3 separate regions of the Homo sapiens genome follow, and all the other regions are reported to be linked to region 1. The links are microRNA targets in miRTarBase. Many come from high-throughput screens and were not tested one by one. Region 1 holds a microRNA gene; each other region holds the end of a gene's coding sequence.

Region 1 (5,140 bases):
GGAAGCTGTTGCCAGGCTCGAGCCAGAGCAGCATGGGCAGGAAGCTCCTGATGGGCAGTGGAAGTGAGATTGGACCAGCGTCAGAGGGCGGATGTACTGGTGGCAGGCTCAGAGAGGGTTGCCTTGGGATTCACAAAGCATGGCCCATGGTGTCCAGACTGGGGGCTTTTGAAGGCTTAGGCTGATGTTCCCCCTTAGCCACACCCTTGCTATCCAAAAGGTCCTGCTCCACATCTGACCGCAAGCAGCCCTCTGACACAGTGCTGGAGGCTCTAAGAATCTGAAGTCTGCCTGTCCCAGGGAAGTCCCTGCAGCAGGTTCTGCTGTGTGTGTCTGTGTCCCCAAGACATTTTTCAGGACAGCTTTGGGAAAAGCACTTTTTAACTGTTAAAAATAGAGAGAGCATTGATACTTGTGAAGATATATGTACTCACTAAAATATATGCAGTGAGCATATATTCACTAAATGAACATGCATTGAAAGTAAACAGCATGATGCCAAGGGCTTGAAGTTCCTTTTCTTGTTGCTTTGTAGGTTAATGAGGCCAGGGGTGTGGATTAACAGTATTCTGGAATCACACAAAACTCTCCAAAGGAACCATTTATGCCACCGTGATAGGAACTGCGTATTGCTCACTTGGATCCTAAGCTGATTTTTAAATTAGATCTTTCCGTGATCCCTTGTTGAGTCTGTTTCATGTGCATTTTATTATATTCTATAAATATTTCACTAGTTGTTTCTAATAATTAGAGAAAAAGTGTCTTTCATCAATTTAAGAGAGAAGGGAATAGTCTGTTAAGGCTGAGCAGTTACTGCATATGAAGGCTCCAATGGTGAGCTTCTACCATTAGCTGGCAAAAAAGAGCAAAAATGCAATGGAAAACAGTGAGGGAGAGAGAGAGAGAAAGAGAGAGAGAGGAGAGAGGCACAGTTACTGAGCCATGTGGCCAACTATTAAAACTAGGAGAAAAGACACAGAAAATGTTGTGTGTGGGGGGGGGTGGGGGTAAAATGCTCCCCCTGAAGAGCACTGAGGCTCTAGGGAGCCCGTTAAACCCAGATAATTCTACTAGAGCAGGAGGGAGCTGGCCTGGGCCTTCCCAGTTAGCACTCACTGAAAACAACGGGCCTCTGCCGAGAAGCTAAACCTGGGACCCCAGGGATGGTTTATCTGGAAGATTAGGGGAGAAACGTGCAAGGCAGCCAAGGCAATCCAGCCATCTCTGCAGCTGGGAAAAGGAGTGATTGTTTTCCTGAGCTGCTAGCCTGGATTTGCAGAAGGAAAGAATGCCTTGTTTCTGTCCCCTGAAGACGCAAGCTGAAAAAATGTCTGGCTGCTCTTCGCCGCCCTCCCAGGTTCTCTCCCACAGCCAAGAACGACTGGCTGCTGCCCTGAGCCGGGAGGTCACAACGCTTGTGGAGTAAGGAGCTCGGGTTTTTGTTTGGGGCTTTGTTTTGTTTTCTTAAGTATCTGCAGGACAATGTTTGGAAGAGTCGTATGCCCCATAAAAGGAAGAAAATGGTGCTCTTGGATTGTAATCAGTGACTTGTGGTTGGCAGTTATGCCTCTGCCTTCAGTACTGCAGGCCTGTGCCTTCCACGGACCTTCCCTAACATCATTTCTGGAGATGATGGGGCCAGCTCTTTAAGAAACTATTTTTTCACGTTATCATGTGGTAAGAACAGAGATGAACCTCAGAGATGAAGAGTGTGATTGAGCTCAGAGAAACTTCAGTGACTTGATTTTAAATGGGCCAAACAGTTGGATTTCTTTTACCTTTTGTGCAGAAAGCCTTCGTTTAGAGAAAAGAGGACTGAATTCTGATGGACAGTAGGTGTGGGAGGGGCAGCATGTTATCACAATAGCATCGTGATGAGATTCCTGGATGGAGGGAATCACTGGTGCTTGCATATTTGGGGCTTCATCTTAGGGAAGTTCCCTAAAATCTCTGTAGCACCCAGTTTTCGTGGGAAGAATGTCGTGGGAGCAGGGGCTTCCCTGACCTTGGAAGCCTGGCCGGTCAGTCTCAAACGAGTTTACTGCCTCCGACCCAATTGTGAGGACTGAGCCAGAGGGAGTGCATGTCAGCCTCAGCCTCCAGCAGCACAGCCCCTTTCTCTACAAGCCTCAGATATAGGGGAAAAAAAACAAAAACAGAGTCAAAAGTAGGTCTTCATTAATAAAAGACTGGGATCTCCCAGAATTAATCATCTTGCTCATCTTTTCCAGTTCTGGAAATCTGATCTTTGAACCTGGTATCCTCAGTCTTAGCACAATACCTGGGACCATAATAGATGCTCAGTAAACTTGGTGGGAGGAAAAAATCAAAGAAGGAGTCAAAATAGAGGTGCTCGGTGCCGAGGAGTTGCTAACCTGGACCATCCAAATAATGACAGTCTGTGGCACTTCAGAAGCATTCCAGAAATGGAACAATGGCACTCCATGAAGCTGTATAAACTCATAATGTATCCTGTAACTAACCCAGTATAGAACAGTAACACTGTTTACACTGATTGGAAGGAAGAAGGTTCATCCTGGCGGTTTATGACATTGCCAGAATGGCTTGAATCCTTGAGGGTGGGTGACAGGTAGAGTGGATAATAAATGGGCCTCCTGGTTCACAGAGCCTGAGAACCTCTCACCCAATGGGCACCTGGTGCCCCTGCAGAGTCCAGTCTAAGAGGACAATTTTTTTTTTCAGATGTAGTCTTGTTCTGTTGCCCAGGTTGGAGTGCCTGATCTCAGCTCACTGCAGCCTCCGCCTCCTGGGTTCAAGCAGTTCCCTGCCTCAGCCTCCCTGGTAGCTGAGATTATAGGTGCACGCCACCACACCCGGCTAATTTTTGTATTTTTAGTAGAGATGCGGTTTCACCATCTTGGCCAGGCTGGTGTTGACGTCCTGACCTCGTGAGCCACCGCGCCCAGCCAAGGACAATTTACTCTAGCCACAGATATGGCCATGGTCCTCATGTAAGCTGACTACAAATACAGCAAATCCACCTTTCCAAAGACTTCATTCTAAAGATGTAAAAGAACAAAAAGAGATAAAGGAAGAGGATGAGAAGACTTGAGAAGAGTGGAAGTGTAGAAAGAAAATGTTTAAGGTTCATCCCCTCCCCACCTTGGGGAGTTCCTTTGGCAGCATCTTCTGAAGGGTACTTCTCCTAGCCCAGGGGCAGAAAGATCCAGTCTTTTGGGGCAGCTGCGGAAGAAAGGAGAGCAGTCCTGTAGCTCATGAAGACATTACGAAGCACAAAGAACTGCACAGGGACAGAGAGTCTTTAGGGTCTCGAGCTCACTCTATGTCCTTGGCTGTTAAGTTCCCCGAGAGCAAACCCCAGCTTCTCGCTTGCTTCAGGCTCTGCATGTGTGAGTGTGACCCTTGGGTACTCTCGGGGCGTTTTCAGCCATGCGATTCTGGGGACTTCAGAGGACTCTGTTCCTTTCTGACTCGTGTTCCGGCGTCTGTGGATTGCTCCCAACAGGAGGAGGAGTATTGTCTATTAAGGGAAAAGATTTCAGTGACCTGGCAGCAGGGAGCGTCGTCAGTGTTTGACTGTTTATGGTATGTCAGGGAGCTGGTTCCTGGCAGTGGCTTCCCCAGGGGTGGGGAGGGGTGTGCTGGGGGTGACAGGAAGCACTGAATCACGACAGAGAAGGGAAAGAAGCCCGCCCGCCACTTCCGGTGTTCACTGAGCAGGTCGGTGGCCAGCGCTGCCTTCGCATCAGAACCCCATTTTAAAACACATCCAAGCGCGTGGCGTCATCGGGACGACGGGCTTCTCCCCAGTAGAGTGTCAGACCAACACCGCCCTGCACAAAGCTCTGTGTTCCCTGCTTTCTGTCATGTTCCCACCCATAGCCAGAAATCCCAGCTGCTGGCCGTCCAGCCCCTATGGAGCAGTGACTAAGGGTGGCTGTGGGACTCACTCACGAGCCTTAGGTTGGGTGTACATAGTTTGTGGCTGATTAGGTGTTGTTAAGGATTTACTGTTCAGGGCTGTTGATTTCTGCCACTGGCTTGTCTTCTCCCAAGGACAAGGGGCCTGCCTATTGGCTTTTAGATCTTAGCACTTAGCAGACTCTCAGAAGTGTTTGCTAGAGGACGTTTTCTGGGGAATGTCCACCTGCACTGATGAAAACAACTCAGTAACAACTCCACTTTGAGAGGAGCAGAGCAGGAGCCTTCCTTAGGTGTGCGTAAGGGGATACCGGCTTTAAAGACGCCAGGCTGAGTTGCTGTGTCAGGATTGATTCTTTACTTCTCCATCTGGAGGTGTTTCTGCTTTATCAGTTTCTCCTTGTTTCCAGCTCTGTCTCGCTGCCAGAGGGCCGACGTTTCCTGGCTTTTGTTGTACTGTGGCACACAGTCTGTTTTGAAAGGACAGGAGCATAATAAAAGCGGATATGAAAGAAGGGCCAGATGACATCACATAGAATACTGGAGGAAGTCCGCGTTTGTGGATGTTTATAATCTCAGCATGTTAGTTGTTTGTAATATGATAAGAGCACTTTTGATACATAGGAGGACTACAAGCCTTGTTGCTTAGACAGGACTCACGAATTTTTATCTTAGGCTCATAGTGACGAACAGAGAATGGGGATCTTGGCCTGGATCCCAAGTGACCCTGGCTCATTGGTTGACCTCGGGTACAAGATTCGGCATAGATGAGCCATTTAAATTGTGCCTAAGCCAGCTACTCATTGAATTTTTTAAAAGAAAGAGAGAGATAGAATAAAGAAAGCTAAGAATTTGACTTATTAGAGATGAATTAGCTTACTAAATTTTTTCCTTTTGAAATCTTACTTCAGAGAAATTGATGGTACCTAGAACTTAACATTAAATCAAGTAAGACCCTTTTAAGGTGAATTCTGGAAGCCATATAGAGTCAGCATTATATGCATGCTTACTCAGTGAAAATCCTAAAGCATGCAAGTGTCTCCATAAAGAGCAATCTCCTTGAACAATAACAGTGTTGACACCTGCTGTTCCCCAGGTCTGTATCGTGAGATGGAAATACACCAGCATCTTCCCCCACTAGGGGAAGATGATAAAATGCAGGTTAAGAACATGGACCATGGATGCTGGGTACTTCCTGCCGGGAGCCGGGCACTATCCTCACCTCTTCCCGTGGGTT
Region 2 (3,094 bases), not on the chromosome of region 1:
ACTTGGCGGAGGGTGGCCCCAGGGCCTGCCCATTCCTTCCTGTACCAGGGACCAGGCCTCTATGCTGACTGAGCCTGGGTTGTGCGAGAAGGTGGCAGAGCTCTCCCTCGTGCCCTGGGGACTGTCCTGGGCCCATGAGCTGATGAGAGCAGAGTCTGAGCTGCACTGCCTTATCATTTCTTCCTGCCCAGGTCCCTGGCTCTGTCACTGAATACAAGGTCTTGGCACTGGACTCTGCCAGCATCCTCCTGATGGTACAGGGGACAGTAATAGCCAGCACACCCACAACCCAGACACCAATCCCTCTGCAACGTGGTGGCGTGCTCTTCATTGGGGCCAATGAGAGTGTCTCACTGAAGCTTACTGAGCCGAAGGACCTGCTGATATTCCGTGCCTGCTGTCTGCTGTAAAGGCTGCAGCCTCCCCAGCTCTCCTCTGCCAGCCACCCTAAATTCCAGCCAACCTCACCTCCTCGGGCCCAGCTCAAGCCCCCTTCCTTGCTCTGGACCCCTTAGGTATACCCTGGAAGAGCTGGGGTGGGGGAGGAGGGAGCGTGAAGGTAGTGACTCCTGAACACACCCAGGTGGAACCATCTTTGGGGAGGAGAGGCCCGTGTGAGGGGTCTGATACTCCCTTTGTCTTCCCTCTCTACTCCTCGCTACACCTGAGCCAGGCTCTTGCCAACTCTGTTCCAGCCTATGGCTTTAGGCTAGCTGTTAAATATGTGACCCAGCATTAGCTCAGCATCTGTCAGAGCAAGAGACCAGGTAATTTCTAAGAACAGGGTTCTAGCGATGGGACTGCCCATTTCCTCAGCTGCAGAGGAGGAAAGGGAAAGGGTAGGCCTGTAGACTAACGCTGTTTACACCCTTGTTCTGTCAAAGCAATTAAAGATCACTTGTGTTGAGGCTGTGGGGTAATGAGCACTCAGCCTTTGGGGTACCTGTTCCTAAAGTGGGCCAAAAGAGCCCTCCCTACATGATGCCCCAGTTTTTGCTTTATTCCTATTTCATACAGCTTCTCGGGGGAGTGAGCAGGCTACACTCCAGAACACCGGTATGGGAAGGAGTGGGAGAGGAAGCCAGCTTTGGCCTCACAGGCACAGCTTGCAAGCAGGCCTTGGGTCTGCCCAGAGGCACAGCTTGCAAGCAGCCCTACAGAGAAGGTGACTCAAAGGATACACCAGTCACCAGTGCAAGACTCTTCGCTCCTGTTTTTCTCTTTTTTTTTTTTTTGAGACGGAGTCTCGGTCTGTAGCCCAGGCTGGAGTGCAGTGGCACGATCTCGGCTCATTGCAAGCTCCGCCTCCCGGGTTCACGCCACTCTTCTGCCTCAGCCTCCCAAGTAGCTGGGACCACAGGCGCCCACCACCACGCCCAGCCAATTTTTTTGGTATTTTTAGTAGAGATGGGGTTTCACTGTGTTAGCCAGGATGGTCTCGATCTTCTGACCTCGTGATCCGCCCACCTCAGCCTCCCAAAGTGCTGGGATTACAGGCGTGAGCCACCACGCCTGGCCCGGCTCCTGTTTTTCAACTGGCCCTAGAGGAGGGGTCCGCAAACCAGGCTGGCAGGCCAGTTCTGGCCATACCTGTTCATTTCCATACTGTCTGGCTGCTTTCAAGCCACAGTGGCAAAGTTGAAGAGTTGCACTAGACTGTACGGCCTGCAAAACTGAAACCATTGACTGTCAACCACTTCTCTACAACATACTCAACTGTTGCAGATTACAGGGACTCAGGAACCGAATTAGACAATTTTCATGGCGAGGAGAAGCCCAGTTAGCTTTCCTAAACGGGCAGGAAGTGTGAAGGAGGGAATCTCCTGATGCCCTGCTCCAGGGGTGGCACACACCTGCAAGAGGCTGTCGGCTGTCTGCTGCTGCTGAGGTTTCTGACCTGCAATCGTAGATCCTGTCACCACAGACTAATCACTTAGTCCACTGGCTCCTTCCTGTGGGATAAAGGTTTAAATTCATGCAAAAGAATCTTTCTGGGCTTCTGCCCACACTAGAGTCCCTATACAATGGAGTTCCAGGAAACCACCTTCAAAAATCTCCTGGGTTTTCTTGCCTCCAAATTTTCTTCAGCTAAAAAACAATAAAGATGAGCTGGAAAGAAAAGGTCTGCTAAAGGGAACCCATTCTACAGAAGTGACTTGCAAGAGCCTATTTCACTCATGCCGTCCAGTGAAACAGGCCCGAAAGTGATGCCCAGTGGGAACAGCAGAAAGGGGAGGGAGTTTCCAGAAGGAATTGCTGTAGTCAGCTGTTAAGCTATTTCTTCATTTCAGGATATCCAGGATATTCTTAACTTTTATTTTTTTGAGACGGAGTCTCGCACTGTCTCCCGGGCTGGAGTGCAGTGGCGCGATAGCTCACTGCAACCTCCGCCCACTGGGTTCAAGCGATTCTTCTGCCTCAGCTCCTGAGTAGCTGGGACTACAGGCGCCTGCCACCACACCCAGCTAAGTTTTTGTATTTTTAGTAGAGACGGGGTTTCAGTAGAGACGGGGTGACAGGATCTACAATTCCAGGTAAGGTCAGGTTGGTCTCAAACTCCTGACCTTGTGATTTGCTTGCCTCAGCCTCTGAAAGTGCTGGGATTACAAGCATGAGCCATTGTGCCTGGCCAAGGCCTTTAAAATCCACTGCAACACAGACACAGCTCAACTAGTGTGATTGCATTTATTCTTATAAATGTACAGAGCTGTAGAAGTGCAAGCCAAGAGTTCTATAGAGTAGTACATAAACACCATATGGTACCACTCCTGCTGGGAGGTAAGCCTGGATACACCCCTCTCCTCAGGAAACTGTCACCTGCAGAACACACAGCACTCAGAATTAAGGCAGTTTGGCCCTGGGCACATTGGTGGTATTTTGGTATGTGGCCACTGGCCCTAAACAACTGACCATTTCTACCCTGCCTCACTGCACTGTCCCACCAGGTCCCTCCAGCTTTTTCTACAAGGTAACACCCTCCTACATGGGGTCAGCCAGCTCAGAAACCTCTTCTTCAGGGACAGTTGCAGCTGAATATGCCAGAGCTGATTATTACAACAACGATGCAGAGGGCCTTGGTTTTGGGGTCCTGCCA
Region 3 (3,094 bases), not on the chromosome of region 1:
AGACTGTCTGGCTTTTTCTTGTTAGGATGGGAGCAGCTTTTTGTTTGCCGTTTTTTCCCAGCCCTCTACATGCTAAACAGAAGCATAAAACTCCTAAATTTTAATTCAGAAAAAGGGGTTCAGAGCTCATTTACTATCTGTGATCTTTGCTAACTCACTAATTCATAAAGTGGAAATACTAATAATAACAATTATGAATTCATCAACAGAATAGAGGATTATTTCGAGGTTTTAATGAAATAATATGTGTGAAAACACTTGTAAACTAGAAACTGCTGTACAATAATCATTACTTTCCAAGATGTCATTTCCTTTTTCTGTCTTCAGAAACGATCTTCAAGACACAGAAATAAGTCCAAGACAGAATCGCCGCACAAGAGCCGCTGAAAGTGCTGAGATTGAACCAAGAAACAAGCGTAATAGGAATTAATGTGGGCTTTTGCTGACTTTTCAAATGCATTGATTAGAATACCGTACTTTTGGTTGCCACAGATAGATTTTCTATTTATAAATGCCCAAGGAAAGATGCTAAATTCTAAATATTACGGTTAGCTGATATTCATTCTTTTCTGCTTTTCCAGAGGGGAAAAATGTTACAAAATATCCTTACTTGGTCAGTTGCCTCCTGCCTCTAAAACATCTCTCTCTAAAAATACTGACATTTCACACAGGTACCAGCTTTGCAGAGGAGGTAGACTCTTTGGCACTTTGGCACAGGGATTTGGTTTGGTTTGGTTTGGTTTGATAATTAAATTTCAGAATGTCCTTAGGCCATTCTCCTTCTCTTCCATGGAGAATCCAGCCTCACAAAAGGATTCTTTCAACTTCTTTATTGCAAGAAACAGTTGAGTTAAATGTTTGTTTTTGGAAAGGCGGGATGTCAGTTCACATCCTTGGTGTGTGTAAGTACCGATGCACGCCACCACCATGCCTGTGTTACAGCAGCTCCATGATGGTTGTTGCCCGAGGTTAATGTAGTTGTTTGTTAGACCTGTGTCTTACACATTTCTCAGAGTAGGATATTAGTATTATAATTTAAAGCTACGACAGTCACAAAGTCACAATAACTTAGAAACATTGCGCATATTCTTCTGAAATAGCACTTAAAAATGATTAGTGTCAGTATTTTTTCACTTGGGTCAATCAAATCTGTAACACTGAATCCAAGCTATTAAACAAAAAGTATGCAATGAATGAATTTTGTAAATGAATAGAGAGTATCAGTTTACAATAATGTTCTTAAAACAGTATCCTCTGGATAGTTGAGTATGGGTTAGAAATCATTGAAATGGATTGGTCAGAAATTGCTATCTGTGTAAAATGTCTACCAGTAGCCAGATGCTTCCAGAGTTCTTAATGCCTCTCTGGCATTTCAGAGCCAGCATCCCCCAACTCCCACCCCTCTGCCATCACCCAACCCAAACACATCAGCTTTCAAATGAGATGATAGTAAATGCGGCAATGTTAAGACAAGAAATTTATGATTTGCCAGATTCAACATTTATGACCTCCCCTTCCAAAGACTGTCTCCGTTGACCTTGTCTTTTTGGTATGCCTTGGGGTTTCTGATAATGTGTGGAGTCTCATTATGGCTGAGAGTTTAGTGTTTTCACAGTGAAGTGCAGACATTTGATTTCTTTATGAGTTCCCTGTGTTAGAAATGGCTATAGAAAAATTTGTCATAATAATTTCATTTGCATGAAATCCTGAGGGGTGCATTAAGGAAACTAAAAGCACCACTTACCAAATCTATCGGCAGAACTGATGTGAGGTAAGTGAGCATGTCAAACAAAATAGGAGCTCACATGGATATATTTATGTCACTGAGTTGTCAGAAATTATGTCAAAATGAAAACTGTTTGTTTCATGACAAATTATATAGTCTATAAATTAAACTGGAAGTAATTATTACTTTAATTGCAGCAAAAGGAGTTTGTGAGGGAGCGGTGAGACCCAAGATTGGGAAAGTAGGCACATGAGTTCATTCAGCAAATATTTGGTTATCTATGTCTGTCACTGTGCTGACACTGGGAATACAAAGGTGGCCAAAGATCATCTAGAACAATGGTTCCCAGTGGGGTGGGCAGAAAGATTTTGCCCCCCAGGAGACAGCTGGCAATGTGTGGAGACACTTTTGGAGGTGGAGGGTGGTGAGGGGTACTACCAGTATCAATGGGTGGAGGCCAGGGATGAGGCTAAACACCCAACCCTCATGGATTAGTTTGCCAGGGCTGCCGTCACAAGATACTGCAGACGGGGAAGCTTACACAACAGAAATGTGTATTCTCAGAATTCTGGAGGCTGGAAGTCCAAGATCAGTAGGGTTTCTTCTTCGGCCTCTCTCCTTGGCTTCCACTCATGGTGTCCTTGCATGGTCTTTTCTCTGTGTGCACATGACTGTGCAGGACTGGTGTCCCGATTTCTTGTAGGGACAGCAGTCATTGGATCAGGGCCCATGCGTATGGCCTCATTTTACTTCAGTTACCTCTTTTTTAGATAGAGGGCCCTATCTCTAAATACTGTCACATTCTGAGATACCGGCAGTTAAGACTTCCAACATATTTAGTGGTAGGGGTTAAGGGGCACGCTTTAGACTACAACACTCCACAGTAAAGAATTATCCAGTCTAACATGTCAGTTGTGCCAAGACTGAGAAACCTGTAATGTAAAGGAACTCCCAAGTCTACCTGAAAAGTAAGGTCTAAAGAGCATTTATTGAGCACTATCTGTTAGCACTTAGCATATGTTTAATATTCATACATTGAAAGAAATGTATGTTCATATCCATCTGACAAAGATTAAGGAACTTAGAGTAAGTAATAGATCCAAAATTGAAACTGATAAACTTCTGGTTCTAAAATTCACCTTTTAGTGAAAATACAGTTTCTCACCAAACTTACAGTAATTCAGAGTTATTAACTCTTTCTACCTCCTCACTCCCCTCAAAGTTATAACATCTCCCATCAACATCAGCTCAGAATGGCAGTGATGCTTATGGTTTGTGGGGGTGCAGGTGAGCTGCTGGATGCACTTTAGATGGCCTAGTATGCCAGGCCGTCCTTTCATCCTCTACTCTCGTCTTTCTTTTTCGACC

Evidence for each region. Region 1 holds the annotated microRNA hsa-miR-8073 (ACCUGGCAGCAGGGAGCGUCGU, at 3,527-3,548, shown strand). A microRNA usually pairs through its seed, bases 2 to 8, with sites in the 3' UTR of a target mRNA and lowers its output. Matches are read on the target gene's strand: a 7mer-m8 pairs with bases 2 to 8, a 7mer-A1 pairs with bases 2 to 7 and ends in A, and an 8mer does both.
Region 2: miRTarBase lists MPI as a target of hsa-miR-8073. Seed matches in the 3' UTR shown: 7mer-A1 at 1,427-1,433.
Region 3: miRTarBase lists RAD18 as a target of hsa-miR-8073. Seed matches in the 3' UTR shown: 7mer-m8 at 2,224-2,230 and 7mer-m8 at 3,048-3,054.

What each region holds. Positions count from the first base shown.
Region 1 is chr13:110,337,442-110,342,581 of GRCh38, forward strand. It overlaps MIR8073 (microRNA 8073), which reads left to right and starts at 3,517; the gene lies at 3,517-3,588. The region is part of intron 3 of COL4A2 (collagen type IV alpha 2 chain); the gene reads left to right. RefSeq lists enhancers at 717-1,218, 4,762-5,140 and a silencer at 3,621-3,690.
Region 2 is chr15:74,897,321-74,900,414 of GRCh38, forward strand. It overlaps MPI (mannose phosphate isomerase), which reads left to right. Exons shown (of 8, transcript NM_002435.3): 8 at 192-3,094. The coding sequence ends at 410. It overlaps FAM219B (family with sequence similarity 219 member B), which reads right to left. Exons shown (of 5, transcript NM_020447.5): 5 at 2,672-3,094. Among named protein-coding and RNA genes, the nearest start is that of FAM219B, 8.0 kb to the right of the region's middle. RefSeq lists an enhancer at 1,392-1,891.
Region 3 is chr3:8,878,693-8,881,786 of GRCh38, reverse strand. RAD18 (RAD18 E3 ubiquitin protein ligase) reads left to right here. Exons shown (of 13, transcript NM_020165.4): 13 at 328-3,094. The coding sequence ends at 430. Among named protein-coding and RNA genes, the nearest start is that of RAD18, 83 kb to the left of the region's middle.